Linked DNA regions of Homo sapiens: region 1 is reported to be linked to region 2. The links are microRNA targets in miRTarBase. Many come from high-throughput screens and were not tested one by one. Region 2 holds a microRNA gene; the other region holds the end of a gene's coding sequence.
The links. Region 2 holds the annotated microRNA hsa-miR-6768-3p (CAAAGGCCACAUUCUCCUGUGCAC, at 2,075-2,098, shown strand). A microRNA usually pairs through its seed, bases 2 to 8, with sites in the 3' UTR of a target mRNA and lowers its output. Matches are read on the target gene's strand: a 7mer-m8 pairs with bases 2 to 8, a 7mer-A1 pairs with bases 2 to 7 and ends in A, and an 8mer does both.

Region 1 (3,293 bases), not on the chromosome of region 2:
AGACCCTGCTCGTCTAAGCCCTGAATCTGCGCCAGGCCCTGCCCGCCGAGGCCGTGCATCTGTGCCAGGCCCTGCCCGCCGAGGCTGCGATTCTGCGCCAGGCCCTGCCCGCCGAGGCCGCGATTCTGCGCCAGTCTCTGCCCCCCGAGGCCGCGATTCTGCGCCAGGCTCTGCCCGCCGAGGCCGCGATTCTGCGCCAGGCCCTGCCCTTCGCGTCCGCACAGCAAGGTCAGACGCCGGTCATCGCAGCACCAGCACGACGCCAGGCACTGGCCTCCGGAGCCGTTCCACCCAGCAAAGATCAGCCCTTCTCAGCCGCCGCTCTCTGTCTGGGTCAGCTGATGAGAATCCTTCCTGTGGGACTGGCTCAGAAAGGCTTGCCTTTCAGAGCAGATCAGGCTCTCCTGATCCTGAGGTCCCAAGCCGTGCTTCCCCGCCTGTTTGGCATGCAGTCCGTATGCGTGCCTCCTCACCCTCACCCCCTGGGAGGTTCTTCCTTCCCATCCCTCAGCAGTGGGATGAGAGCTCCTCCTCCTCCTATGCTTCCAACTCCTCCTCCCCGAGTAGGTCTCCTGGCCTAAGCCCCTCATCCCCTTCCCCTGAGTTTTTGGGCCTGAGATCTATCTCCACTCCTAGCCCTGAAAGCCTTAGGTATGCTTTGATGCCTGAGTTTTATGCTCTGAGCCCTGTCCCTCCAGAAGAGCAGGCAGAAATAGAGAGCACAGCTCACCCCGCAACACCGCCTGAGCCGTGACCCTCTATAAGCATCCTCTAAGACCCACAGAAGGAATCAACATTTACCCACTTTGTGAATGGGCTGCCTGCCCTGTAGTTAGCTGCGAGGTCTCCCAAAGTTCCAGCCGTTAACCAACATCCTGAGTAGTTTAGAAGCCTCTCCTCCCCATGACTCCACCACCTAGCACTTAACCTGCTGTTGGCCTTTGATTCTGGGCCACCTTCTTCCTCAAGAGTTTGCCTTTGCCCTTGAGCTGAGATTTCTGTTTTCCAAGTTGCTTTTCTGTTATGAAATGTTTTAATTAGTAAAATAAATTGTTTTGTTTAAACAAAATGTAGAGGTGTGTTTTTTTATTGCGGTTCGAAAAATCGTTAATCCTATATCATATTTGGAGGGTTAAAGAAAGTTGTTAACATACTAGCTGACTCTTTGGACGAGAGAAGAAATAAAATACTGTCCTAGCAATAATTTATTCCCACTGGCTGAAATGGAGTTCTGTGCAGGAAGTTCCCACTTAGGTCTATATACCCTCTTAGCAGAGGTGATTTGCAACTTGGGCAAGAAAAGGGGCCAGGGTCTAACCCAGGTGGCTGGAGAAAAGGAGGGGTGATGGAGACATCCAGGGTCAGGAAAGGAGCAGGGAATGATGAAGTTTGGGATGAGAGGTAGGGAGACGATAACCCAGATGGGAGTAGGGAAGCTGGGAGGAAGATCCAGAGTCAGGAAATGGGGAACAGCAGGAGTCAGAAGCTTGAGAGGGGAATATCTTAGATTCTAAAGGATAAAAAAATGTTTATGTGTGGGGAACGGGCTCCTGAGGTCTTTGGGGGTGGGGAGAATGTGGGAGGGTGATTTGGGGCTAATAATTGATGGGAAAATGGTCAGACATTCAGTGGAAATACGTGTTAATCGATAATGTTACTGTAACAAAAATAATTGTAACTGAGTTTGAGCAGATATGTGAGGGTGTGTGTGTGTGTGTAGACATTTGGAGAGAACTACATGGGCATACACCATGCTGTGAACAAGGTGTATATCTTTTTTTTAATAACTGGTGATATGGTCTTCTATAATCTACAAGTTCCACATTGACCATATAACTATTTTTTTAAATTAAACTCCGCTGTTTTTTGAAAATTTAAGTTGTAGAAACATAATAGGAGAGACTACATTAAAAGAACAGAGTGAAAAAATATAAAGCAAACCAGCAAAAGAAACTCCCTTTCCCTCCTTTCTCATATTTCTCCTCTCCTTTGCTATTCTGGTATGTGAACAGTACAAGCATAGTCCTGACCAAAAAGGGCCCTGGTCACAATTTGGAGGGTCCTGTTCAGGCCCTGCTCATGCTTTATTCACACCACAAAGCTAAGAGTCCATGGGGGATAAGTGGGACCTGTGTGCCCACCAGGTCCCAACATCCTGCCACTTTTATAGAAAGTGTTTCAGGTACCCTCATTCTTCAAGGCTGTTTCTAGGGCTTGCAAGGCCGTATTCTCAGGGTCCTTCCTAAGGAAAGAACACATATTTTAAAAGCTCTCACTTTGTTATATTTCTTTTTCTTGAGTAATTCTAGATATCCAAAGACTAAGACAAAAAGTAGACAGTTCCAATGCAGCAAGTCACAACCTCCCAGTATTGGAGGGCCTACATTTATTCCCATTTCACAGATGTGGAAATTGAGGCTCAGAGCAATTTTGTGATTTTCAAAATCTCATAGCTAATAGAGCTTGGCTCCAGAGTCAGAATTCCTGGGTTTGAATTCTGGTGTTCCTATTGAATCACTGTGTGACCCAGTGCAAGTTAGTTAACCTGGGATCCAAAGCTTCTGCATTTGTCAATTGGGCACAGTAAGAGTGTACGTCTCCAAGATTATTGTAAGGATTAAAATGGATGGTGCATATTAAGTGCTTCCAACAGTGTCTTGCACATCGTGAGTGCCCAGTACAGATGGTTCTTACTCTGATTAGGATTATGATCATGTGTCCAGATATTTCTGACAGCCCCTTAACAGGTTACTGGTCTTTCCTAAACAACAATACTTTCAAAATCAAACTGGCTGTTTCAAAAATGGAGAGGGACATTCTTTATTGTACTTAGTACTTTAAAATATGAAGGCATTTCCACAAGCTATTGAGCAACATTTTTACCAATACCAGAGGCCACTGCGCAAAAATGTAAAAAAAAACAAAGGATTGAGCCTCAGAGGTACAAACTCTAGGAATTTAACAAATTTATACTCGCAGTCGTTACATGAATGCTTCTGAGAACAGTAGTTTTTCTCCCAGCGTTATTTGTATCTTAACTTGTTTAAAATATTCATTTTAATGAATGAATGGAATACATCAAGGATTAACATTATTGACTGCAAGTTGCCTTTATATAATACCTGGCATGCAGATATAACAGGTAAAAATCATAGTATGCTTGTATGTGTTAAGTACTGTTTTAACGTTTATACATACACTAACTCGTTTAATTCACAGAACAACCTTAGGAAGTAGATGTTCATATTGAGCCCATTTTATAGATGAAGACGTTGAGGAACAGAGGTTACATA
Region 2 (3,236 bases):
TCTGCCAGCCGGTCAGCTTTGTCCCCTTGTCCTAGTCAGTGTCCTCTTGGTTCCCTGCGGCCTCTGGAGGCCCCTCCTGGCATTCAGCAGAGCCAGACGCCCAGCCTGGGGTCCCCACCCTGGCCCTTGCCTACCTCCCAAGGCCCAGCTTACTGGCTGGAATAACCGTGTCCCTCTGTGGTTCCTCTGTGCACCCCACGTGTGCACCCCAGCCTGTGGGCCCAGCTCAGTTCCACACAGACCAGTGATTCCACGGATGCCGCCGCTGCCAAAACCCAGTTCCTCCAGAACATGCAGACAGCTGTATCCTTGCTGGGCTTGTGGGAGCCCTGGGGGCCTCTAGCTCTGAACCTGGCAGGTTTGCAGAGCAGCCCCAGGAGGGGCTGGCGTGGGATGGCCAGGGCCACTCCCCAGGCCCCGTTCTTGGTGGGAGCAGAGGGGCTTTGGCTGCAGGGAAGTTTTCCTGACCCATATCCAGTCAGGCGGGCCCCAGCCCAGGCTCAGTGCTGTGGAGGTGGAGGCGGAGGCGGGGCGCCTGCGGAAGGCCTGCTCGCTGCTGAGACTGCGCATGAGGGAGGAGCTCTCGGCAGGTCAGTGGGTCCTGGGTCTGTATCAGGAGGAGTGTGGAGGGCCAGTGCAGGGAGGGTTTCCAGACTGCCACGGGCCCCACCTGCTCTCCCTGACTCTTCTGCAGCCCCCATGGACTGGATGCAGGAGTACCGCTGCCTGCTCACGCTGGAGGGGCTGCAGGCCATGGTGGGCCAGTGTCTGCACAGGCTGCAGGAGCTGCGTGCAGGTGAGACCCCGCCCCCACCCTGCCACCTGCACTGAGGTCTGGGCCGGGGACAGGGTGCTTTAGCCAGGCTTGTCTGCGCCTCAGGGAAGGGTGAGCAGCCCAGGGACCAGATGCAAGTTGGTGGGCCCCTCCACCCCTCCCACGCCACTCCCCAGTGTGCTGGGTCCTCACCAGTCGTCCTATGGGAGCAGTCAGCCTTCCTCTCCTCCTCAGGGCAGCTCTCCCACCTCGCTGCTCCCCGCACACAGAACCTCATTGCTCTGAGCAGTTGCTTATTCACCCAGTTGTTGAAAAACTAGCATGTGAGGGCCGGGCGCGGTGGCTCACGCCTGTAATCCCAGCGCTTTGGGAGGCCAAGGCGGGTGGATCATGAGGTCAGGAGATCAAGACCATCCTGGCTAACACGGTGAAACCCTGTCTCTACTAAAAATATAAAAAAGTAGCCAGGCGTGGTGGTGGGCGCCTGTAGTCCCAGCTACTTGGGAGGCTGAGGCAGGAGAATGGCGTGAACCCAGGAGGAGGAGCTTGCAGTGAGCTGAGATTGCGCCACTGCATTCCAGCCTGGGCGACAGAGTGAGATGCCGTCTCAGAAAAAGAAAAAGTAGCGTGTGAGGCCGGGCACAGTGGCTCACGCCTGTAATCCCAGCACTTTGGGAGGCCAAGGCAGGCGGATCATTTGAGGTCAGGAGTTCAAGACCAGCCTGGCCGACATGACGAAAGCCCATCTCTACTAAAAATACAAAAATTAACTGGGTATGATGGCGCACACCTGTAATCCCAGCTACTTGGGAGGCTGAGGCACAAGAATTGCTTGAATCCAGAAGGCAGAGATTGCAGTGAGCTGAGATTGCACCACTGCACTCCAGCCTGGGTGACAGAGTGAGACTCCGTCTCCAAAAAAAAAAAAAAAGAGAAAGTAGCTCGTGAGAATCAGCTCCTGGGAGGTGACTCGCCTGGGATTGCGTGAGGTGGTTATTTATAGAACTTGTTTCCTCCTTTGTATTTTCTAATTGCTTGAAGTTTTAAGAGTGAAGATACATCATTTGTCAAAAGGAAAGACAATCTCATAAAAGTCATGCATAAACACAGTAAAGAAATTAGGCAGGCAGAGGGCCACCCCACAGAGGACTCCCTGCCAGCAAGTCCAGGCCCAAGACACACCATCTTGCATGGGGCTGTCCTGAAAGCCCACCTTTCTCCTAAAGGCAGGGCAGGTGGTGCAGATGCGGGAGGGCCAGGCACACAGGAAAAGCGGGGCCCTGGGTTCGGCTGCTACCCCAAAGGCCACATTCTCCTGTGCACACAGCGGTGGCGGAACAGCCACCAAGACCATGTCCTGTGGGGAGGCCCCCCGGAGCCTCGCCGTCCTGTGGGGGTAGAGCGGAGCCTGCATGGAGCCCCCAGCTGCTTGTCTACTCCAGCACCCAGGAGCTGCAGACCCTGGCGGCCCTCAAGCTGCGAGTGGCTGTGCTGGACCAGCAGATCCACTTGGAAAAGGTGCTTCTGGAAGAGGAGGTGGGGGTGCAACAGAGGTCCGCAGCCTTGAGGACCCGAGGGTAGGGGCTTGACTGCTCCACCCCCCAGGACCCAGGAGGATGGGGGCAAGCCTGGGGTCTGTGTGTGTGGGTTGGGAAGTGCATGGGTCAGACGGGGCTGGGACGGCAGGAGGGAGCCTGGAGCCTCAGAAGGAGGGAGGAGGGCTGAAGCATGGGGGCCTCGAAGCCTGTCCCAGGATTGCCCCCCGCCTAGGTGCCCCTGAGACCTTGGCCCTGCCCTGCCCTGCCCCCAGGTCCTGATGGCTGAACTCCTCCCCCTGGTAAGCGCTGCACAGCCGCAGGGGCCGCCCTGGCTGGCCCTGTGCCGGGCTGTGCACAGCCTGCTCTGCGAGGGAGGAGCACGTGTCCTTACCATCCTGCGGGATGAACCTGCAGTCTGAGCCTTTCCCATGCTGCCCTCGGCCTGTTCAGATGGGGATTGGGGGTGTCTTCCCTGGCACTGTGCTCGGGGACCCAGAGATGCCTGTGCTTCCCTGGGAAACCTGGTGAACTGGACCAGGTGGCCTCACTGGCTCTTCTCAGGACAACTAAGCCTGCTGGTCAGGGCTGGCTTTCAGCCTTCCTAAGGCTCCTGGACTCCAGAGGCCAGCGGGGAGCCTTTCCTGGCTCCCTCTGTTTTCTCTCACTGTAGACCAAAGAGCCGCTTGTGTGATATTAAAGCCACTTTAGAAAGCATTTGTGTTTATTTATGTTTTTGAGACAGTCTCACTCTGTCGCCTAGGCTAGAGTGCAGTGGCGTGATCTCAGCTCACTGCAACCTCCGCTTCTGGGTTCAGGCGATTCTCCTGCCTCAGCCTCCCGAGTAGCTGGGACTACAGGCTTCGGCCACCACGCCTGGCTATTTTTTTTTTTTTTTTTTTTTTTTTTTTTTTAGTAAAGATGGG

Region 1: miRTarBase lists EZHIP as a target of hsa-miR-6768-3p. Seed matches in the 3' UTR shown: 7mer-m8 at 937-943.

What each region holds. Positions count from the first base shown.
Region 1 is chrX:51,407,775-51,411,067 of GRCh38, forward strand. It overlaps EZHIP (EZH inhibitory protein), which reads left to right. Exons shown (of 1, transcript NM_203407.3): 1 at 1-1,069. The coding sequence ends at 754. Among named protein-coding and RNA genes, the nearest start is that of EZHIP, 2.5 kb to the left of the region's middle.
Region 2 is chr16:2,461,937-2,465,172 of GRCh38, forward strand. MIR6768 (microRNA 6768) reads left to right here and starts at 2,031; the gene lies at 2,031-2,102. TEDC2 (tubulin epsilon and delta complex 2) reads left to right here. Exons shown (of 10, transcript NM_025108.3): 6 at 213-303; 7 at 479-590; 8 at 695-796; 9 at 2,103-2,293; 10 at 2,586-3,027. The coding sequence ends at 2,732. It overlaps TEDC2-AS1 (TEDC2 antisense RNA 1), which reads right to left. Exons shown (of 1, transcript NR_135198.1): 1 at 3,014-3,236.